Linked DNA regions of Homo sapiens. The protein of the gene in region 7 purifies or fractionates together with the protein of the main gene of each other region. This does not show direct contact. Each region holds a gene or a part of one and is shown on either strand. Other genes may lie near its edges.

What was found.
Region 1: the proteins of CASC3 (region 7) and DICER1 purify together in Homo sapiens (co-immunoprecipitation; one large-scale study listed by IntAct). This does not show direct contact.
Region 2: the proteins of CASC3 (region 7) and HADHB fractionate together in Homo sapiens (co-fractionation; one large-scale study listed by BioGRID). This does not show direct contact.
Region 3: the proteins of CASC3 (region 7) and UPF2 fractionate together in Homo sapiens (co-fractionation; 3 studies listed by BioGRID and IntAct). This does not show direct contact.
Region 4: the proteins of CASC3 (region 7) and CEP135 purify together in Homo sapiens (co-immunoprecipitation; one large-scale study listed by IntAct). This does not show direct contact.
Region 5: the proteins of CASC3 (region 7) and ERH purify together in Homo sapiens (co-immunoprecipitation; one large-scale study listed by IntAct). This does not show direct contact.
Region 6: the proteins of CASC3 (region 7) and FAM98A purify together in Homo sapiens (co-immunoprecipitation; one large-scale study listed by IntAct). This does not show direct contact.

Annotation. Positions count from the first base shown.
Region 1 is NC_000014.9:95,085,728-95,088,628, forward strand, and holds the end of DICER1 (endoribonuclease Dicer), read right to left. Parts: 3' UTR 501-2,901; downstream 1-500. UniProt on the Homo sapiens protein: Double-stranded RNA (dsRNA) endoribonuclease playing a central role in short dsRNA-mediated post-transcriptional gene silencing.
Region 2 is NC_000002.12:26,275,939-26,279,438, reverse strand, and holds part of HADHB (trifunctional enzyme subunit beta, mitochondrial isoform 1 precursor), read right to left. Parts: intron 2,367-3,500; coding exon 2,279-2,366; intron 826-2,278; coding exon 638-825; intron 305-637; coding exon 124-304; intron 1-123. UniProt on the Homo sapiens protein: Mitochondrial trifunctional enzyme catalyzes the last three of the four reactions of the mitochondrial beta-oxidation pathway.
Region 3 is NC_000010.11:12,025,810-12,029,309, forward strand, and holds part of UPF2 (regulator of nonsense transcripts 2), read right to left. Parts: coding exon 2,936-3,500; intron 1-2,935. UniProt on the Homo sapiens protein: Involved in nonsense-mediated decay (NMD) of mRNAs containing premature stop codons by associating with the nuclear exon junction complex (EJC).
Region 4 is NC_000004.12:56,011,445-56,014,944, reverse strand, and holds part of CEP135 (centrosomal protein of 135 kDa), read right to left. Parts: coding exon 3,423-3,500; intron 3,146-3,422; coding exon 2,960-3,145; intron 1-2,959. UniProt on the Homo sapiens protein: Centrosomal microtubule-binding protein involved in centriole biogenesis. Acts as a scaffolding protein during early centriole biogenesis.
Region 5 is NC_000014.9:69,384,800-69,388,299, forward strand, and holds part of ERH (enhancer of rudimentary homolog), read right to left. Parts: intron 2,285-3,500; coding exon 2,164-2,284; intron 1,539-2,163; exon of another isoform or gene 1,247-1,538; intron 1-1,246. UniProt on the Homo sapiens protein: May have a role in the cell cycle.
Region 6 is NC_000002.12:33,592,800-33,596,299, forward strand, and holds part of FAM98A (protein FAM98A), read right to left. Parts: intron 2,839-3,500; coding exon 2,690-2,838; intron 1-2,689. UniProt on the Homo sapiens protein: Positively stimulates PRMT1-induced protein arginine methylation. Involved in skeletal homeostasis. Positively regulates lysosome peripheral distribution and ruffled border formation in osteoclasts.
Region 7 is NC_000017.11:40,157,537-40,161,036, reverse strand, and holds part of CASC3 (protein CASC3), read right to left. Parts: intron 1-3,500. UniProt on the Homo sapiens protein: Required for pre-mRNA splicing as component of the spliceosome. Core component of the splicing-dependent multiprotein exon junction complex (EJC) deposited at splice junctions on mRNAs.

The DNA.
Region 1 (2,901 bases), on a different chromosome or scaffold from region 7:
ACTTTTTTCTCATTCTAAAAAACTTCTTACCATCTTGTTTCTACAACCAAATGATTCATATTAGTGCTTGGTTTACTGAGTTACAAAAAAAGTTGGGTCAAAAGGCTAAAATGATAGAATTATTTCTTAATCAACAATATTGGAAATGTGTCCTAAAAACCTGGAAGCTGAACATTCTGTCCACCTGCTTTTAGAAAAGCCAAGTTCACCTCAAGAATGTGTCAAACACATCATCTAAATAATCCAAGACCTAGAATGCATCAATCAATGTGACAGAATTTCCAAAAAGCAGATTGGAATTAAGTCTTCAAAAAAGACAGTTGTTACTATATAATTCTACAGGTGGACATGAAGCAGAACTTGGTAAACAAAATTTTATATTAAAATATGCATTTTCATATGATTCACCATGGAATTGAAACATTATAAAGATCATTTCTGCTACCACTATTTAAACGTTATTACCCACTTGAATTGAAAAAAGATGAAAGGACACAAAGTGAACAGACGATAACTTTATTGGAGATTTACTTGGCTACAATTATTACAAAAAAAACAACTAAAGGTAATTGTGATCCATAAGGTGCAGACTGCAAATTTCTGCAGCATGATTACTGTATGAATGAATGACATCATGTTCCTTAAAAAACAGCTGCAGCATGTGATGGTAAATATTTTATTGTCAATCAAATAATATGCATTAGTTTTACTTGATTTTAGTAATTTTCCTTCACTATTTACAGCAGAAAAGCCAGAAATTTACTTCCTGTTCACCTTTGCATTTTTGCTATGTAACCTGCTGCTGCAGTGAATTCTTAGTGCATCTATAAAATTTAAATTGTCTGTGGTTGATGTCCAAATAAAAATGGACTAGAAAAAAAGAAGTAATGATTAAAATATATTTACAAGTTAGTTGTGAAAAATCATTTTCACTGCTAGTGGAAAATACAATGGTCTCAATGCAAATTTCCTAGATATTGCTATTGGCGTCTCCAACAACTTTAAAAATCATTTTAATAGTCTTGGTCTTAAACATATCTTTAAAACTTTTCATGTACAATATAAAATAAAGAAATTTATCTGGAAATAATTAAATTCCTGAAAAGTAATCAGTGGTTGGAAAAATATAATTATTCAAATGTAATTAAAACAACCATATAGGTAATAAACATGACATGAGTTTCTCTTCTGCAGATAATGCAAATGGGTTAAAGACTCTTAACATAATTTCAGATGCAGTTAAAAAAAGGTATCAAGGTCTCAGTTTGGTGGCTTCAATCTTGTGTAAAGGGATTAGACACCCTAACAGAGCAAGATCCAATATTTTAAATCAACGGGGCCTTGTGCATGAACTGCGCTCGATCTGGATTCCAGTGATCCTCTGCAGTGCCCACCTGCCTCCAGGGAGCGACTGAAGAAGCCGACTGCCGGGGGAACACCTGGATTCATGAACCAAAGCAGCCTCAAGTTTCATGTTGTCAAGGCAGGGTATCAGAATCTTTCTGAGGGCAAAGTATTATTAACAAATAAAAATATCAGTATTTTAAAAGACAATTACAGGAGTGTTAGAGGTCATTCTAAATTTCATCACTTCACGTAATATAAAAGAAAAAAGAAAAGAAATATAACAAACATTTTAAAAACATAATTAAGAGTTCAGTTAACAAATCTGTTTCATACTTTCACAAACAGTAAAAATGCCACAGACAAAAATGACCTATTTAAGTTGTGCGAGTATATGACACATTGCAGGCATTATAATTATCTTTTTCAAATTCCATAAATCAAAACAGCAGCAAGGCCAAACCACATTTTTTTCCTCTCTGTTAAGCATATTTTCTTGAAATGAGGTAAAGCATGGTACCAAGTGCAATGCTTATCTGTGCTACATGAACAGAACAGAAGGGAAAAAGCTATTATAAAACGCAGCATAGTTAGGACTGCGGAAAGCATATTATAAAAGAAATTTTAAAAAATTTACAAATGAAGGTTCATGTTAACTAACTTGCACACAATCATCATAAGGAATTTCTGCAGTTGCTTTTTCAAGACACGCCTCCCCAGTCCTTTACACACGTGCTCAGGGCACAACCACACCCCACTGGTAGGTTTTCCATATTACATTCGGTCTCACATTGCAATCACAGGAACACAGGGTGGCACACAGGGCTCTAAAGTGGGGCAACATAGAGTGATTTTTTTTTTCCTTAATTGACAGATGCAAAACATTTCAACAAGCTAAACACAGGAAAACTTTACAGCATTAAAAATCAGCAGCACAAAAGCGTTCATAACCATTTCATATGTCTAACTCGTACTTTTTTATTTTTTAACTCAGTAACCAGGGGATCACAGAATGCTTCAAACTGTGAGTCAAATTAAAATCTACTATTTTTCTCCAACAAAAAGTGAAACGGCTGAAGTTTGCTGTTGATAAAACATTTGAATGGTAGAAGGAAATTTGAACCCCTGAGAATGTATGACCTAATCATGTCTAAGTTTGAACATCTTAGTATTAACAAAAAAATACTCTTCTTAAGGTTACAAATATATTGAGGCATTTTTCTCCCACTGGGAATCATAACTGTGAAAACAATCTGATTTTGGTGCCAGGAATCAAGAGAATCCCGTAACACTGGGATCAATGTATTAGACACAATGCAAAGCCCTAAGCTCCTGGCATCAGGTAGTTTATAAATATTAAGAGATTTGTGATTAAACTTGATCACAAATCACCCTCAGAATAAAATTCACATCCAGCCTTGTTAACTGCACACTTTTACAGTTATATAATTCAAGAATTGCTTTGTTTTAACTGGTCATATCTTACATTAAGGTTTTTTAAAAAATCAAATAGACATCTAAGGTTCCAAATCGGAATTAAATATTTTTAAAACAAGT
Region 2 (3,500 bases), on a different chromosome or scaffold from region 7:
AATAAAGGCTGAATACTTTGGAAACAGAACCAACATACTTATGGAAAAATCACTCGGGATGTTTTTGAGTTTTAGGAGCAATTCAGAACTCCCTAATAAGTGTCATGAAGCATTTCATTTCACCTGGTACTTTGAAGGGTACCACATCAGAAAGGAGTCCTTCATCCTGTGCCTTCTTGGCTAGACTGTGAGAGCGCAGTGCATATTCATCCTGTTCCAGCCGAGAAACAGCAAAGGCAGCGGCCAGTCGGTCTGCAGAGTGGCCCATGGTCTCACTGGTGGAGAACTCAGAAACCGCAGGGAGCTGGGAAAGGAGATATCCAAGGAGCAGGTACACTGTTAACCGGTGTTATGCTAACACCTAGGATTGTTCTGTGTTATTTGGAAAAGTTAAAATCTATTTGTCTACCATTAATCAATCAAGTCCAAGACAAGCAGAGGATCTCTAAAGAGGATCTCTAAAGAGGGCTCACAAATTAAAGTTTTCTAACCACTATCTTTTTTTTCCATCTTGAGCAAGTAATTAACCCTTTCCTGTAACTACAGAATCTACACCTATTACAGCATAGCAGAGTCCACACTGCCATACCTAATTCTAAATCTCTGCAGTGGGATGCCCTGCAAACACAAGCCTTACCTCAGGTGCTAGGAAATTAAATCGGAATTTAGAGATTAAAGACAGTCGCTGGCCCATAGATTTGGCCTTATTGAGATCAAGCATCAGTTTTCTCATTTTCCTTGAGTGACGAATAGGGACATCGGACATCAACTCAACACCACCTGCCACGATCACATCACACTGGCCAGAAGCAATCAAGCCAACACCTACAGGGCACAGGTTATACTTCATGAATATCTTTTACAGAAAATAACATACCATTCCAATTTAAGCTTCTTGATTAAAAAGCTGAATGACAGTTATCAGCTTTGTACAACATCTGTAATTAAAGTTTTCAACTTTTCAGAAGAATTAAGGTAATTTTCTTAAATGACTAAAAACACATTCAACACGTTAGAGAAAAACAAGTTTCATTCCTGCCATATGGACGTCAACTTCTAGGAATATCCATTGGACCAACTCTTGAACAAATCATATTCCAAACCAGAACATCTTGCATATTTATATGCTCCCAGCTTTAGTTTTAATAAAGATTTTTTATCCTATAAAGAGAATGTTAACTTCTGCTGCAAAGCAGAGAAATTACAGCTGTTGAAACGTAAGGCAGGCCCCCTCTCTCCTTATGGCCACTGGCCAGTATTCTGTTTCTCTAACCAGGAGTTGGTCACATGCTGCCTAGAGTGGCGAACGCCCCCAGTCACGGGCATCATTCCCCGCCACACATGAGGTGGGGTGCCCACCTGGGCCTTGATGTTACTAGATGAGCACATGATTACTAAATCTTTCAGGCTTCCTTGCCTCCTCACACTAAGAGCTGATGCTACAAAATATCCCACAGTTTTGCTAAAGTTTGTTAGTGGGGTTTTCAGTGATTTATAAAAATGACAAGGATGTAAGGAGAAAGTGAAGGAAAGAGCTGTGCCATCTAAAGCAATGATTTACAAGTATGGTAGTGGTGAAGGAAGGAAGACCATATCTTTGTGGGAAAATATCATATCTGAAGCACCTAGGTTGAAAGCCTGGCAGGTTGTAAACTATTTACTCATGCCTCAGATGCTGAAGTACCTTCCTAGAGATACACTCCTCCAGTTGATAATCCCTGCTGCAGCCAGCCACATTATTCACAGAGGAACCACGCCAATGGTAATGTTCCTCAGGTATGGAGAGCAAAAAAAGAGGTTAACTACGGTTAGAACCCCCAAATTTTAAACCTGACCTTACTTTTTAAAAAACACAAGTATAGAGATCTGTGCTAATCTTTTACTTCTGTTAAGAGTACTTTTTGGGATGAGCATGGTGGCTCACGCCTGTAATCCCAGCACTTTGGAGGCTGAGGTAGAAGGATCACTTGAGGCCAGAGGTTTAAGACCAGCCTGGGCAACATGGCGAGATCCCGTCTCCACAAAAAATTTAAAAATTAGCTGGGTGTGGTGGAGCACCTGTAGACCCAGCTACTTGGGATCCTAAGGCAGGATGATCTCTTGAGCTCAAGAGTTTGAGCCTGCAGTGAGCTATGATGGTACCACTGCACTCCAGCCTGAGTGACAGAGTGAGGTTCTGTGTTAAAAAAAAAAAAAAAAAAAAAAGTACATTTTTATAATCAAGTAAAAGACAAAGGAGAATAATTAACATGTACTGTCTGTTTCCATTTAAACATACCTGTGGTCATGGCTTGGTTGGCAGAGATACAAGCCATGGTGACAGTGTGAGCAGGAGTCTTGTCAGAGAAGCCAGCTCCAAGGGCAGCCTTTAGGAAATAGAGTGAATGAAATGATCACTATAAGGGAAGGGCATCATGTAAATGATGCTTTGAGCACTAATCTTCATAGTCATCTGGAAACGGTTTCAGTTTAACATTCTCCAGAGCAATATTTAAAATCAAATGAAGTCCATCACAGAAATGGTTCACTAATATTTAATCTTGCCATTAATTGACAGGTATATGCAAAATTCCTGCTGGCTGGTTTCTAGTGCAGACACGAGGCTATGATACTCTCCTAACTCACCTAATTTCTTATCGATGTTTTGCTCAGGGCCTTCAAGAATATCAATATATAATTTGATTTTAACTTGTTTAATGTTCAAATATACTTAAAAGAACCTATTAAAGACAGTTGCTGGAATGATGATGAAATATATTATGGGGTGGAGTCCTCACTATCTGTGTTATCAGGTCTCATGATCAGTCACAAAGCTTAGCAGCAAAGCAAAAGTGATTAAACATGAAAATGATTTCTAAAGAACTGACCCTTCATAAACAGAGTTCCCACTCAAGACCCTGTCTGCTTTACACCTATCTTTCTGCTCACTGCCAGCTGGTTTCTCTTACTGACCGTCTGATACTTCAGATAGCACACTGCAGACCCAATGCAAAGATGAACTGGAAAACTTGCCAACTATACAGAAGCTCAACTCAATGAAAGAAACTGGAGAATTGCCTGAGTTACAAGTGAGTCTGTGAACAAATAAGGGTCAGACCAACTAACAAGTGGCCAGGATGATGGCATAATACGTGATACAAAGAGAATAATTTGTCATCTGAGCGGCTTTAAGAAAAACTGAGGTCATTATTAATCTTTTAAAAATGGCCTCTATTATAATGGCACAGTGAAAGTCAAACATGAAATGAGCACATCTATAATTTTATTATACTATTTATTGGGGGAAATTATGCTGTCAAAAACCAATCAACGTCTGATTCCATTTTTGTTTATGTAAATAATTAATGCACAGGTGCAATTATAAAATACTTATTTTTATAATATTAAAGTTTTACTTTAGAAATAAAGCTTCCAGATTTCCTCCCACATACACACCCACACAATATTTACTATGAAATACTGGATCCCATTATAGGGAATTCATTTTTAGTATTCTTTCC
Region 3 (3,500 bases), on a different chromosome or scaffold from region 7:
TTCGAGACAGGGTCTCTCTCTGTCGCCCAGGCTAGAGTGCAGTGGTGCGATCATGGCTTACTGCAGTCTCGACTTTCCAGGCTCAACTGATCCTCCCACCTCAGCCCCCAAGTAGCTGAGACTACAAGCGCATGCCACCACACCCAGCTAATTTTTATATTTTTTGTAGCAATGGGGTTTCAGCATGTTGCCCAGGCTAGTCTCAAACTCCTGGGCTCAAGCGATCCTTCTGCCTCAGCCTCCCAAAGTGCTGACATTACAGGCGTGAGCCACCGCACCCTGCCAGTACTATTAATAATACACATGTAATCAATATCCAAAGCTTTCATAAAGCTAAAATAATATACAAAAAGCATCTAAATAAAGTTTAACAGAGATATGCAAGTACACATTTAGGCTTTAAAAATTGTATTTCACTAGTTTAAGGTGAAGAAGAAGTGGCTTGTCAGCAGTTCATATGAGAAATAAAGCTTCAGTGCAAATAAGTTTAACAAAAACCAAAAGAACAACAAGGTAGCTATAAAAACTAAGGCAATTTTAGGTCACAGATAGAAAAGAATGCATCCAAAACAAGTATCCTAAGAGTAGTGAAGTGTCTGGAAATCATGGAGCAAACTGAAAGAACTGGAGGTATTTAACATGGAGACGAGAAAAGGGAAACATCACGGCAGTCTGAATATCTGAGATACTGTCATGGGAATAAAAGTGGACACATATGTCCTCTACTGGTATTCCTCAAACCATCTGTGGTAAAGGGCCACCTTTCCTTCCCCAACCACTGGACACTTCTGTAAAAATATAGTAAGAATACCATGACCACTGAAAATTCCTATAAACTTTTTTTTTTTTTTTTTTTTTAGGACGAAGTCTCGCTCTTGTCCTCCAGGCTGGAGTGCAATGGCACAATCTCGGCTCACTGCAACCTCCACCTCCCAGGGTCAAGTGATTCTCCTGCCTCAGTCCCCCACAAGTAGCTGGGATTACCGGGGCCTGCCACCATGCCCGGCTAATTTTTGCATTTTTAGTAGAGACGGGGTTTCACCATGTTGGCCAGGCTGGTCTCAAACTCCTGACCTCAGATGATCCACCCACCTTGGCCTCCCAAAGTGCTGGGATTACAGGTGTGAGCCACCATTTCCAGCCTGAAAATTCCTATAATAATTTCTAAATGCTCACTCTCACTTTCTGTGTTTCATTAAATTGTGAACAGGTTACAAGTTCATAGATTTCCTACTTCAAGTACCTGTATTCCATCCATACCAGAAAAAAGAACCAAATCAAAGGGAATCATTTTGTGGGAAGTTAAATTTCCACCTGATGTAACAAAGAATTCCTAGCCCATAGTGTTTCCAACAGTGCAATGGCACCGAGAGAACTGAGCTCCTTTGGGAAGTATTCAGAGGAAAAATAATTTTATCTGTTAGATAATCTAAAAAATGTATTCCTACTTTGGAAAGGTGAATGGATTGGATTAAAACATCGTAGAATCTCTCCACTCTCCAAGATTCTGAGTCCAATCAAAAGCAAATACACACACATACACCCTCAAAGTAGCCAAGAACTAATCAATCATTAGCATACTATTAGCATACTCACAAATCAGTTATGATGTATTAGGTAGGATGTACGAGCAAAGGACTATGAAATTGACAAAGCATATGGAAATCATAATTAAGCCCTAAGTAAGTGAGAAGTATGAATAAAGCACCACCATAATCCTTTTTAGTCCATTACTGATGGTACAAGTACACTCTCAGGTTGCCTCTTCAAAGTTTAAACCAGTCCTCGCAAATCAAAACACAAAACAAGGATAAGCCTTTTCCTTTTTCCTAAAAGAACTATTGATAACACCTTTGCCGTCTTAAATTCTCACCTCTGAGTGACCTTCAGCCACAAAGATTTAACCACAGTCTCTACCTTGACCCTGCCCTAACTGTACTACTGGCATACACTACTCCTGTTCAATCTTCTGGTCAATCATCTTCTAGTGGTAACTACTTAAACCACTCCTCCCCTACCACAGACTTATGAAACTAGAAAAGGATCTCCTCCTATACAAATTTCTGATCAACAGTAATTTCAGATTCTCAACCATGCAATATAAATAGTTGTAGAAATATTAAAATAGTTTAATACTCAGCCACGTGCTATGGCTATTACCTCTTTGCTACACTCCCTCAGCCCCCCTCCAAATCCATCCTCCATAGAAATTGACCTAATGCCTAGCAACTCCATCAACTTCTAGCTTCTTGTTGCTCCTCAGGTACAAATACTACACAGTAGTCTACCATACCTTTTAACAACCAAAATTGGCCCCAAAGTCAGGTCTTTTCACCAATTACCACAGGCACAGTACATTCCTCCTTTAGAATTTTAAATGAATGCCCCCAGGAAGAAGACTCCTACAAATGAGTTTTGTAGTTGCATTTAAGAAATTTTTTCACAGCTAATTTTGTGCATTATTTCCCAAAACTCTAATCTGAAATACCACTGGTAATTAATGACTCATTTTCTTAAGAAGAGCAACAGTGACATAAAGAACTTAAAATACAAAACAATGAAAGCAAACCTGTTATAGAGAGAACGTTAAAGCACACAGAAAAATATTAGCAGGTAAGTTTAAGTGACAGAAAAGGAAATTTTACCCCTTGATTATTAAGGAGTATTTAAAATCACAGGAAGAATACACATCCACAAAGCAAAAATCACCATCTACTTGGCAGATTTTTTTAAAATCAGAAACAAAATCTATCGTAGACTCACATTAAAACATGAGTACTCAGACTGTTCTACTTTGAAATTTTCCTGGAATGTTAAGAAATCACCTGTAAGGAGCCCTTTTCCATAAGTTCTTTCAGTGGCATGAAGACTTTAAACATTTTTAAGTATGAGCTCCAAAATAAATTCTCAACTCTGAGAAACATTTGAAAATCACCTGTTTTGTCTCTCAGTATTCTGGAGCTCCCTGTGGTCCCTTTTCAGGTGTTTGGTCAAAGACGTAAAGTACTCTTTTAAAAGATTCTGGAAGGGCTGTTGTTTCTCTGGACTAATTATCTCACTAGGAGGAAAACTCAAATTAAACTTCTCTGCAGCACTCTTTACTTTCCTTGGTACAAGTCCAGCAATATCATCTCCACAATGTCGACAGAAACTAATCACTACAGAGACATGAGTGTGGGACTCCCGATCAGCATTAATAATATTTTTTAGCTGTTCATAGATTAAGGAAAGACCTTCCTTGTCAGTGAAAATCCCAACTATTGTCAATTCTGCAATAAAACGCAAATCAGTTCTTAACTTGGTGATGTTAGGTGTTTTCTCCTCTTTCCTTGCTTCAAAATGTTTTTTCCAGACCTGAAGAAGTGATGGGGCAAAGTCAGCATAACGCTGGTGAAAGAGAGAGCAGAGGTGCACAGCACAGTTCACATCAGAGATTTTTAGTTTTGCTTCCACGATGGAAGCTACAGCTTCTGCAATGTATTTGCTTAAATTTAGGCCAT
Region 4 (3,500 bases), on a different chromosome or scaffold from region 7:
GGGACTACAGCCACGTGCCACCATGTTTGGCTAATTATTTGTATTTTTTGTAGAGATGGGGTTTTGCCATGTTGTCCAGGCTGGTCTTGAACTCCTGAGCGTAGTTTTTTGGTGGACACAGGTGGATTGCTTGAGCGATCTGCCTGCCCTGACCTTCCAAAGTACTAGGATTACAGGTGTCAGCTACCACACCTGGCTTCATGTCTTGCTTTCTTTTTTGCTTTTCAGTTCCTTGCTCCATTTCTCTCTTTCCTCTCATATTTTACTGTAAGTAACAAGGAGAAACCAGGATGTCTCTTCCGCACTTTGCTTGGAAATCTCCTCAGCTAAATATCCGAGTTCATCCCTTACAAATTCTACTTTTCTCCCAACAGTAGACCGTAACTTAGCCAAGTTCTCTGTCACTTTATAACAAGTAACATCTTTTCTCAACTCTGTCTGAGACATCACCAGAGGAAACATTCATATTTCTGGCAAAATCCATCCATGACAACATATGTATTCTGTAAATAATAGAAGTTTTCTTTACAGCTCTCATCTCTTCTGAGTCTTCATCACAATTGCCTTTCATGTCCCTATTTCTACCAATGATCTCTTCAAGGCAATCTGGGCTTTTTCTGTCAAGCACTTCAAAACTCTTTCAGTCTCTACTCATTACCCAATTCCAAAGCCACTTTCATATTTTCAGGTGTTTGTTGTAGCAGCAACCCACTTTCTGGTGCTATAATCTGTATTAGTTTCCTAGGGCAGCTGTAACAAATTGCCACAAATTGTGTGGCCTAAAAAAATAGAAATTATTCTCTCACAATTCGGTAAGCTGGAAGTCCAAAATTCAGGTGTTGGCAGGTTTGGTTCCTTCTGGAGATTCTGAAGCAGAATCTGTTCTTTGCCTCTCTCCTAGTTTCTGATGGCTACTGGCAGTCCTTGACACTCCTTGACTTCTACACATATCACTCTAATCTTTGCCTCCATCTTTACGTGGTGTTCTCTCCTGTGTTTTCTGTGTCCAAATATCCATTGTCCTATAAAGACATCAGTCCATTGGTCTTAGGGTCTAACCCTAATCCGCTATGACCTCATTTTAACTTGATTCCATCTGCAAAGACACTTTTTCCAAATAAGAGACTGGGGCTCAATATATCTTTCTGGAGGCTATAATTCTATCTGCTACAGATAGTCAATACTTTCTCCTGAAAGATAAAAATTATAAAACTATACAAACAAAACAAAACAAAAATGACAATAATGGCCAACTATTGTATATCAATCTAACCCAGGGTCCCTATATTTTAACTGAACTCAAATTTTTTATTATGAGATTTTTATCAGACTGTCTTTATGACAAAATCTTATTTAAATCCACATGCAAAAAAATGATGCTGGGCTCTTATATCATTTGTAAAAATTAACTCAAAATGAAACAAAGACCTGAATATATGAGCTAAAACTATAAAACTCTTATTAGAAAACATAGGGGAAAAGCTTTATGACATTGCAGTTAACAATAATTTCTTGGATATGACACCACAAGTATAGGCATCAAAGGAAAAAAAAAATTGGACTTCATTTAAATTGAAAACTTCTGTACATCAAAAACTGTTGAAAAGGCAACCCACACAATGGGAGAAAATATTTGCAAATCACGTATACACTAAGGTATTAATCTCCAGAATATGTAAAGAACTTCTACAACAACAATTTAAAACAATCTGATTAAAAAATGAACAAAGGATTTGAATAAGCATGTCTCCAAAGAAGATACACAAATCGTCAATAAACAAATGAAAAGATGCTCAACATCACTAACCATTAAGGAAATGCAAATCAGAACCACGAGATACCGCTCTATTCCCATTATGACGGCTCTTATAAAAAATAAAAAAATTACAAGTGTTGGCAAGGATATGGAGCAACTGGAACCCTCGTGCATTGCTGGTAGAAATGTAAAATGGTGTAGCACCTACGGAAAAACCACATGGCTATTCCTCAAAAAATTAAACACAGAATTATCATATGATCCAGTAATTCCACTTCTGGGTATATACCCAAAAGAACTGAAAGCAAGCACCCGAACAGATATATTTGTATACTCATGTTCATAGCAGCATTATTCACAACAGCCAAAAGGTAGAAACAAATCAAATGTCCATTGACAGAGGAATGGCTAAACAAAAATGTGGTACATACATACAATGAAATGTTATTCAGCCTTAAAAAAGGATGAAATTCTGACACATGCTACACAATATGGATGAACCTTGAGGTAAAGTAAACCTTAAGGCTAAGTGAAATCAGTCACAAAAGGACAAACATTGTGTGATTCCACTATATGAGGTATCTAGAGTAATCGAATTCATAGTGACAGAAAGCAGAATGACAAATAATGGTGATAGTTACACAACATTGTGAATGTACTAATGCCACAGAACTGTCTACTTAAAAATAGTTAAAATGGGAAATTTGATGTATGTATCTTTTACTACAAAAAAAAGTAATGGGCTTCTATGCAAATTATGAGAATGACAGAAATTTACCACTGAACTTGATTTTATCAATGTTTACGACCTCAGGTCAATAAAGTATCTTTGAGGCCGGGTGCGGTGGCTCATGCCTGTAATCCCAGCACTTTGGGAGGCTGAGGCAGGTGGATCACTCAAGGTCAGGAGTTCGAGAGCAGCCTGGCCAACACGGTGAAACCCCATCTCTACTAAAACTACAAAAAATTGGCCAGGTGTGGTGGCACACTCCTATAATCCCAGCTACTCAGGAGGCTGAGACAGAAGAATCGCTTGAACCCAGGAGGTGGGTGCAGTAAGCAAAGATCGTGCCATTGCACTCCAGCCTGGGCAACAGAGTCAGACTTCATCTCAAAAAAAATAAATAAATAAATAAATAAAGTATCTTTGAATGTTTTCTGTTTCACTAAATAACATCTTTACAAAACAAATAAATATATTACCTCTTGAATTTCTTTTTCTAATAGCTCCACTCTTTCTCGAAGATGTCTCCTCTCAGTGTCAATAGAAAGAAGTTCCAGTCGAACTGAGCTGCTTTCTCCCTCAGCTTGATGGGCTTTGACCTCCCAGTCTTCAGCACGGTTATGAAGCATCTGAAATCTATCTAACAAATCTTGATTTTCTTTTTCCTGGTTTAATCACAATAAAATTGTTTCTAAATTAGTAATTGTCACTTCCTGGAACACCTATGTCATAAACACATACACATACACAGCATTCTGTTCTAATTTAGGAAGCATTAGATATCTGTGCAGGTACCACACTAAAATCTATGGGAAAAATAGAAAAAGGCAGTAGACAAGATCTCTACTTTAAAATGTTTAATATCTAATTGTAGAGGCACATGAAAAAGTTAAAAAAAAAAAAAACCTCAGTCTTAAATCCAACCTAAATAATATTTTTCACCTTGGCAGCCATTAAGCTCTCCCATCGTGACACCTCTGTTATGTATTTATGAACTCTGCTCTTCATTTCTTCTTTTTC
Region 5 (3,500 bases), on a different chromosome or scaffold from region 7:
TCTTCTTAAATTCTATCAATTAATATACACATTATTGGTAATTTCATATCCAGTGGATGATTCTGTCAACACTTAGGCCTCCCAATTCCATGAAGTCTTTTCCTCTAATGATCTCATCTCCTACCCTCTCTTGGCCAGATCCCTAGACCTTGTCATTTCCAACTACTTCAATTTCCTAATTTCAAGCATGTCATTCTCTGATCACCACTTCCTAACACTCTAATGTGAGCAATCCTTGATCCAGTGGGACCTACAATGAACTGATCTACCTCTGTTTCCAGCACCTCCTCCTACACCCCCAATTAAAGCTCATGGTCATTCAGTCGTTGCTGTTGTCCTCATATATGCCCTCAACCTTTAGCAAAATCTTTACTCTCTACCTACTCCTCACCTGTAACCATCCAGGTGAGAGAGACTAGGAAAAAAATCCCATGATCACAATGACTGATTTCACTTTAAATCACTATCAGATAGGTACTTTGGAGGACACTTAATGCATCCCTGAATTAATTGCAGTTCCCTAATTCTTTCACCTTCCTAGCTTATTTCTTACTTTTCCACAAACCTGTAACACCTGTTTCAAATGATGTCCTTGCTCCTTATCTTTCTGAGATAACTGAAGCATACAGAAGATAATTCCCCCCAGCTCCCAAATTTGCCTGTCCTCCCTTTTTTATGATTGAACTGTCCAAGAGCCAATTTGAGCTATCAGTTTCTCCTTCTCTGGTACATCATCCCATCAGCCTGCAAACTTACCATTACTTTTCCCACTTAAAAAAAAGCAATTTCTTTCTCCAGCTACAACCCCATTTTTCTGTTCTTTCAAGCAAAATTCTTTAAATAAAAAAAAGGAAAAAAAAAAAAAAAGCAAGCCTGTAATGGCCACCTATAAATCCTCTCTTTTCATTCCCTTCCATACACTGAAATCTGTAAGCATTTTACTCCTGGCACTCTACCACAACCGTTCTGGAAGTCACCAAAGACTTCCACAGTGTCAAATCCAGGGGTCAATTAAATTCTCAGTCCTCACATATCTGTCCTATCAATGATATGACACACTTCTGCATTTGGCTTCCAGGATATCATTGCTCCCTGCTCCTCCAATCTCCTAAGACACTCTCCTTCACTCATTCCTCTGCAGCCTCAAAGGCTTCCTTAATGACTTCAAACATGCTAGGCACTCCTACTTCAGGACTTCTACACTAGCTGTCCCTCATCCCCTCTGTCTGGTATGTTTTTCCTATAGATGTCTGAATGGCTTAAAGTACCATGCAACATTCATTTGAATGTTCTGAGTGATCAAAGTGAAATGGCTACAACCGGAACACAATGAAGAGGTACAGAAAACAAAACTCAAACATCCCAAGGAAATGCGTGTTTTGGAACTTTTGGGGAGACAGCATGGTGCAGCCACATTCCATGATTGGCTCCAGTGGTGATCCAGGAAGTGCCTATGAGTAAGACTTGTATATTTCTCATCACTGCTCTTTCAACTTCTAGCACAGCACCTGACATGTAATAAATATTCAAGTATCTGATGATTGAGTATTGTATCATAAGGTGCTTCCATTTTCCTCGGTTAAATGAGCTGTATTTACACTCAATTTCTGTTCGCTAATGTAAAAAAGATTAGGTAAGTCTACAGTAACACTTTATGCTCCTTGTTAGTAATTGTCAGAAGCAGATTATCAATACAAACTATAACAAATATGTTAAAAAATCTCACTCTAACATACCAAAATATACGTACTTACACAGCGTAGGATTGAAATTAAATTTCAGCTATACGCATATTTAAGTTTTTGAAATGTCATGAAAAAAAGATAATCTTAGTTTTAATCCAAAACCAATGGCTTTAAGACAAAGACTGTAAAGGAAAAAAAAAATTAGGTATAAGGAACAAAGAAGAGGCACATGGAACTTCTGAATTAGGATCCTTTCTGGATACTAACTATATCAATTAGCAAAGTTATTTTTTTCTGTGCCTTTGGCTTTATGTTGCCAATCTCTTATTTCTGTAAGAGAAATATTAATTACTATACACTATGCAAATGCAAAGATCAGTATCAGGCACATAATTAGCTCCCAATACCATAAATCACCTCAAACAGACAGAAAAGCAATAGAAAATACAAGATAAAAGACATGTTGGCTAATACTTACACCAGGCAGCTGAGGTCTGCCAGATCATCGATGAAATCAAACAACTGACTGATGTCATATGTGATAGAGGGACTGTTGGGATTCATTCTTTTCAGATGTTCTTCATACATTTTACAAACACCTAAGAAAGGATAGGAAAAAAAGCAAAATCTTACAATCGCATACACTTCTAGATATGAGCAGTGCTTATGAGCTGTGCTATATGTTGATATCATATTTACTTTAATAAAGTTGGGCTGGGGAAAAGATGATAGATTGATGGCTTTTGATTATTGCCACTAGCAAATACTTTTTTATTTTATAAATTCACCAGGTCAGGTGTAGTGGCTTACGCCTGTAATCCCAGCTCTTTGGGAGGCTGAGGCAGGAGCATCACTTGAGCCCCACAGTTTAAGACCAGCCTGCCTGGGCAACACAGGGAGACCTCATCTCTACAAAAATTAAAAAATTAGCCAGGCGTGATGGCGTGTGCTTGTGGTCCCAGCTACCTGGGAAGCTGAGGTGGGAGAATCACTTGGCTGCAGTGAGCCGTGATTGCATCACTGCACTCCAGTCTGGGCAGCTGAGAAATTCACCACAATGTTGATGTAACTATTTTGTGTCTTAATAATAAAATGATTACTTCAAACCACTGGAGCTAAGGGGCTTTAAAGACTTGCCATCTGATGGCTCAAACAAATAACACTGTGGGTCTTAACAGGTTTTTCAGTAATTCTTCCTAAAGCCACAGAGCAAAAAAAAAAAAAAAATTGGCAACAAGGAAAGAGATTATCCTAATGTATATTTAAGATCCTAGACTAGGCCGGGCACAGTGGCTCACGCCTGTAATCCCAGCACTTTGGGAGGCCAAGGCGGGCGGATCACGAGGTCAGGAGATAGAGACCATCCTGGCCAACACAGTGAAACCCTGTCTCTACTAAAAAAATACAAAAAATTAGCCAGGCATGGTGGCAGGCACCTGTAGCCCCAGCTACTCGGGAGGCTGAAGCAGGAGAATGGCATGAACCTGGGAGGTGGAGATTGCAGTGAGCCGAGATCGGCCACTGCACTCCAGCCCGGGTGACAGAGCAAGACTCTGTCTCAAACAAACAAACAAACAAAAAATCCTAGACTATGGATTCAGACAGACTTTAGTTCCAACTCTGCCCCTGTCAAACCGAGGACAAACGACGCCATTCCCTGAACCACACCTGTCAAACAGAGTTAAGAGTGCCTCTTCATAGAATTGTGAGGTTTATTTGAAATAATACACATAAAGCATTAGCACATGAACAAGGATATAAGTACTTAAATATAATAAAAAAGATAATGAGCAAAATCATTAATAGCAAGCCCAC
Region 6 (3,500 bases), on a different chromosome or scaffold from region 7:
AGGTTTGTTCTTCCTAGCATATTCAGCTATAATCACCTACATTCCCTCCACAAATATTTCCTGTGTGTGCCAGGCCAGTCTCCTCACTGTCCCATGAATAGCCAGTCTTATTTCCACTCTGTGCCTTCATTTAAGTTATTCCCTGTGACAGATATGTCCTCTACTCTCTTCCCCTCTAGCAAATCCCACCCATCCATCAAAGCCCAGTGGCCTTGCTCCTTGATGAAACCTTCCTTGTACTTGGCTGAAACTTCACCCTCGTACTTGCTGATTTCCTCTCTCTGTGAACCACAAAGTGGTTCAGCATTTAAGTACTGTACTTGGCCGGGCACGGTGGCTCATGCCTGTAATTCCAGCACTTTGGAAGGCCGAGACGAGTGGATGGTTTGAGTTCAGGAGTTCGAGACCAGCCTGAGTAACGTGGCAAAACCCCGTCTCTAAGAAAAATAACAAAAATCAGCCAGTTGTCGTGGCACATGCCTGTAGTCCCAGCTACTAAGGAGGCTGACCTGGAGAATTGCTTGAACCTGGGAGGCAGAGGTTGCAGTGAGCCCAGATCGCGCCACTGCACTTCAGCCTGGGTGACAGAGTGAGATCTTGTCTAAAAACAAACAAACAAAAGGACTGTACTTATCTCCAGTTGTTTAATTTGTGCCTAACATTCTCAATTAGAAAAAATTTGAAGACAGCAAACATGACTTACAGTCTTGTATTCCCACAGCATATAAAAAAAGGTATAGAGTTCACTGGGTGAACCAAAGGAAAAACAAAGCTCTTTCTTCATTATTTTGATTGTTCTCTATTCACTATCACAAAGGGGAAGAAATTAACAAACTCTGAGAGAGTCACTTGATCACCTGAGTCCATTTTCTAATCTGTAATACAGGAAGCCTACATTATGAATATTTTGCAAACTGTGATCTGTGAGCCCTTGAGTTCCACAGAGCTCTTTTAGAGGCAGCTGGGAGGATGAGGAGGAAAGAGCTGGGCTAAAGGTACCTCGTCTCTACTTTGTTAGAATACCTTCTAACCTGTTTTACATGTTAGCTTCTGTATCATGTTTCATTTGAGAAAAAGGGGCTCCAGGTTAAATAGAGGTATCATCTAGTACTGGTGTTTTCAAAGGTTCCTACAGTCTCTCAAACATCTGGTCAAGAGGCAGTATAGCACAGTGTTCAAGCACACTGGCTCAGAACTTGACTACTGTTCTGGGGTTGAAACCAGGCTTCACCCCTACAGGTTGTATGACCTCAGGCAATGTATTTAAATTCTCTGGGCTTTCTTGTTAAAGGTATAACAGTAATAAAACCTGCCTCATAGGGTTGCCCTGAGGTTTAATGAGTTAACACATATAAAGTGTTTAGAACATAGTGAGTACACAATAAATGTAAGCTGTTGCTATCATTACTGTTACACTATACTCTCCTTAATAATTAGAACTGAATGCAACTAACACGTACACATTAAATATACCAGCATGCAAGCCATCATCCTCCACAAACTAACACAGGAACAGAAAAAAAACACCACATGTTCTCACCACTAAGTGGGAGTTAAAAAATGAGAACACATGGACACAGGGAGGGGAACAACACACACCAGGGCCTGTTGCGGGTTAGAGGGTGAGGAGAGGGAACTCAGAGGACAGGTCAATAGGTGTAGCAAACCACCATGGCACACGTATCCCTATGTAACAAACCTGCATGTTCTACACATGTATCCCGGAACATAAAGTTAAAAAAAAAAAAAAAAAAAAAAAAATTATATATATATATATACACACACACACACACACACACACATACATACACACATATATATATACACACATATATATACACATATATATATACACACATATATATACACATATATATATACACACATATATATACACATATATATATACACACACACACACACACACTAGCATGCAAGAAGGTGAGCTCTTCAAAACGTGATTATGTGGAAAAAAAGGAATTATATGTATAGCTCTCCATAAGGGTGGGTTAACAGGTGAGTATTTTCCTTGGTCTCCTATTATAGGTTTACCTACAGCAGGAAGGAACCAGATGGTAGAGTGGTAGGTTCCAAGCTTTTGCCTCTTTTGCAGTGTCGACAAACTAGTGCAACAGTGGAAACAAAATTGGTAAATGCAGAACAGCTCTCAGATCCATAAATTTGATTGTCCTGGATCTCACTGTGATGTATCTAACGATGCATTCTTATGATAAACAAAATGTCTTAACAAAGTGTTCTCTTTCTCCCCAAGCATAACAGAATAATAATGCATTTACTCTACATGCTATAGATGCTTCTAGAATCTGGTAATCCTAAAAGAAAAATATCCCAGTATCTAGTTCTAGCCATCAATCTAGGATCTTACATTTAACATCTTACAAAATATAGGAAGTTCATACATTCTATGCTTGTGGTCTCCATTTCTCTGTATCCCAGTAATAGGGTCTTTTCAGCATCCACGAATTTTTAAGTTACATGACTTTATTCTGGTATTTCAACTTCTGAATCACCTCTAAAAACAACGGACGGAAAAAAAATCTTGGCTTCTTTACAAATTTTTTACATTTACAAAAACTTGCAACTTTCAGCTTTAGTATTGATAATGTTCAGTTGACAATACCTCAATGTTATTTTTATACTTTGTACCTAAAAGTGAATGTTTACTTACTGTTAGTTGCTTGCACGTTTTCCTCTAGTTTACAGAGCACTCTTAATTCAGACACCAGCCAAGCACAGAGTTTGGTAAACTCGGGGGAACTGGCTCCAGCAGAGACTGCCTGAGAGAGCGCTCCATCTTCCAACAATGGGCCCTTGTAACTGGTGAGCAAGAAATTACATTTCAGAAGAAAATACAATCATACCTAATATATTACAGATAAAACATATCTATGTCTTATTTATATAAGCAATAATTTAATAAAGATAAGTTAGTACTTATCTTTATTTTAAATGGACAAATATAAACATAATTTAGAACTATACTGAACCATTACAAAAAGCAGCTAAATGGTAGCTGCATTTCAACCTTTCAAAATGTAGGTGAATATCTAACAGAATTGCATATACTACTAAATTATGTCAACTTCTGTACATTTACTAAAAGCTTCCATTGTAAAAAGATTTATTTTCTTACTGTAATTGAATTGAGTATTAAAAGCAAATTAACAAGTAATAGCTAATTATACTGTAACTTATTTCAGAAATAAAACTTAGGTTATCTTTTCTAAAAATTTTCCAGAAAACAACTAGATTATGTTTTTATTTTGAGATGAGGTCTTGCACTGTCACATAGGCTGAAGTGCAGTGAAGGCACAAGCCACCAAACCTGGCTTTTTTTTTATTTTTTATAAAATAGCCAGGGGTCTTACTATGTTGCCCAGGCTTAGTTAGGTTTTTAATGACTTCCTTTAAAAGTAAAAACTTTCCAGTTAACCATTTATATCATTTTTATAAATTTAATGCCAGTTAAGACTAGTAAG
Region 7 (3,500 bases):
CTGCACTTCAGCCTGGGCGACAGAGCAAGGCTCTGTCGCAAAAAATAGTAATAATAAAAAAAAGACACTATTTTAAAAATATCACATTAAAAAAAATACACACATACATACATATATATCCACATAGGTATTCCTGGAACATATGCAAGAATTATTAAAAGTGGCAGGCTGGGCGCAGTGGCTTACACCTGTAATCCCAGCACTTTGGGAGGCCGAGGCAGGCGTATCACTTGAGGTCAGGAGTTCGAGACCAGCCTGGCCAACATGGTGAAACTCTGTCTCTACTAAAAATACAAAAATTAGCCGGGAGGCGGAGGTTGCAGTGAGCCAAGTTTGTGCCACTGCACTCCAGCCTGGGTGACAAAAGCAAAACTCCATCTCGAAAAAGCAAAACAAAAAAACAAAAAAACAGCGGCAGCCTCTAATGGGCCCAGAGGATAAGAATGGAAGGGAGACTTACTATACGATACCTAACATATAAGAGGAGCTTAATCTTCCTTGATAATCTCTCTCTCCATGAATTATCTTTTTTTTTTTTTCTGTTTTGAGACAGGGTCTTGCTCTGTTGCCCAGGAGTGCAGTGGCACAATCATGGCTTACTGCAATCTCAATCTCCTGGGCTCAAGTGATCCTCCCACCTCAGCCTCCCAAGTAGCTGCGACTACAGGCACATGCCACCACACCTGGCTGATTTTTTTTTATTTTTAGTAGAGACGAGGTCTCGCTATGTTGCCTAGGCAGTTCTCAAACTGCTGAGCTCAAGCAATCCTCCTCCCTTGGCCTCCCAAAGGGCTGGGATTACAGGCATGAACACTGTACCTGGCCCATGAATTGTCTCTTAAACATGCAGTGCCTAATAACTATACTTTGACGTAAGTTGTGAACTCTCCCATCTCAAAATGGCTTAGAGCAGAAATTCCCAACCTTTTTGATTATGCGGACCCCTTTTTAGGATCTAAAAATTTTCATGGATCCCCATGAGATATTCACTGAGAAAACATACAATGACAAACAACTGCTAGGCTGGATGTAGTGGTTCACGCCTGTAATCCCAACACTCTGGGAGGCCGAGGTAGGTGGATCACTTGAGGTCCGGAGTTTGAGACCAGCCTGGCCAACATGGTGAAACCCTGTCTCTACTAAAAATACAAAAATCAGCCAGACATGGTGGCATGAATTTGTAATCCCAGCTATTTGGGAGGCTGAGGCAAGAGAATTGCTTAAACCCAGGAGGTGGAGGTTGCAGTGAGCCAAGATTGCACCACTGATACTAGTCTGGGCAAAAGAGTGAGACCCTGTCAAAAAAAAAAAAAAAAAAAAAAAAATTCGCCAGGAATGGTGGTGTGCGCCTATAGTCCCAGCAACTTGGGAGGCTGAGGTGTGAGATCATTTCAGCCCAGGAGGTAGAGGTTGCAGTGAGCCATAATTGTGCCACTGCGCTCCAGTCTTAGCAACAGAGAGAGATCCTGTCTCAAAAAAAAAAAAAAAAAAACACACAATGAACTGATGCGTGCGTGCCTGTAGTCCCAGCTACTCAGGAGGCTGAGGCGGGAGAATCACTTTAACCTGGGAGGCAGAGGTTGCAGTGAACCGAGATCGCACCACTGCACTCCAACCTGGACAACAGAGACTGTCTCAAAAACAAACAAAAAACAACAAACTGTTATACATTCAATAACACTTTAAGTTTACATTTTATTAATTTACATATATTCAAAAATAGTAGTACATAAGGGGGGAGATGTATATTTTAGTCTATAGATAATGAGAACTGAATGAGTAGACATGCAACTCTTTTTTGAGACAGGGTCTCACTCTGTCGCCCAGGCTGGAGTGCAGTGGTGTGATCTCAACTGACTATAGCCTTGACTTCCTGGGCTCAAGTAATCCTCCCACCTCAGCCCCCACAAGTAGCTGGGACTACAGATGTACACCACTATGCCCAACTAATTTTTGTATTTTTTGTAGAGACAGAGTTTCACCACATTACCCAGGCTGGTCTGAAACTTCTGAGCTCAAGCGAACCTCCTGCCTCAGCCTCCCAAAGTGCTAGGATTACAGGCATGAGCCACTGCGCCCAACCAGATGTGCAAACTCTTGATAATGACTCCATGATTTCCCAATGCACTTATCCTCAAGCTGGAAAATGGTAGCTTTTTTTAATGCCTATGAGTACTGGTTTTCTGCAGCAGAAAATTCCTGCAGCCAGAACATATCCAGAATCACATAATTACAAAAATTTGACCTAAAAAACCTTAAAGGACAACTTGTACAACCATCACATTTCAGAAATGAAAAAAATTAGTCCAAGTGCTCTCTCTCTCTTTTTACTATCTTCTTCCCTCTTTTACCACATCAAGATTGGGTAACACTGTTCATGACACAGAAAGTGCTGGGTCTACACACAAAGGATCATTAGGCCATTAGAAAGGGCCAGGAAATGGACGTGTGGCTAGTTCTAGGTAGGAAAAGGCAGCAGCTAAGGCTCATGATAAGGGAACTGGCTTTAGAATAGGGTTACTCTCCTCTCCTTGTCCTCCCCAGATTTGGACCTAAGGAGGCAGAGCTATGGCTAGGGAGGCCTACGAGAACACAGAGAAATGGGTTCAAGGAAAGGTGGTCTAGTCTTCATTGGTGGGTTACATCTGAAACCTGGTAGATGTATGTACACTGGTCTCTCACTCACCTACTGGGTCTGATACTTGAACTGAACCAGACTGCCCTGTCACTCAAGACCCAGGCTGGCCCCAATAATCTGGTCAAAGAGGCTCAACATGAGATTCCTGAATTCCTGATTGAGAAACTCTCAAACTCTAAGTTTCTGCCATCTCTTCAAATAGAGCTGAGTCAGCCTGATTGGCCCAGACAAGCCAATTAATCCCTCTTCCTCATTTTTCCCTGCTCAGCATCTGGGTATAGTTGACGCTGGAACAAGGGGTTTGAACTACTCAGGTCCACTTCTACGCAAATTTTTTTTCAATAGAAGTTGCAGCAAGTATGCCTGCCTCTCCTTCCACTGCCTCTGTCACCCAAGGCAGCAAGATCAACCCCTCCTCTTCTGAAGTCTACTCAATGCAAAGATGATGAAGACCTTTATGATGATCCACTTCCACTGAATAGTATGTTTCCTTAATAGTGAATGATTTCTTAATAACATTTTCTTTTCTCTAGCTTCATTGTAAGAGTACAGTACATAATACACATAAAATATAAAATACATATTCACTGACTGTTTATGTTATTGGTATGGCTTCCAGTTGACTTAGTAGTTAAGTTTTGGGTGAGTCAAAAGTTATACTTGGAATTCTTACTGCAACAGGGATAGGTGTCCTTTATATTTTATTTATTATTTATTTATTTTGGAGACAGAGTCTTGCTCTGTCGCCCAGGCTGGAGTGCAATGGCGCGATCTCAGCTCACTGCAACCTCCACCTCCTGGGTTCAAGCAATTCTTATGCCTCAGCCTCCTGAGTAGCAGGGACTACAGGCGTATGCCACCA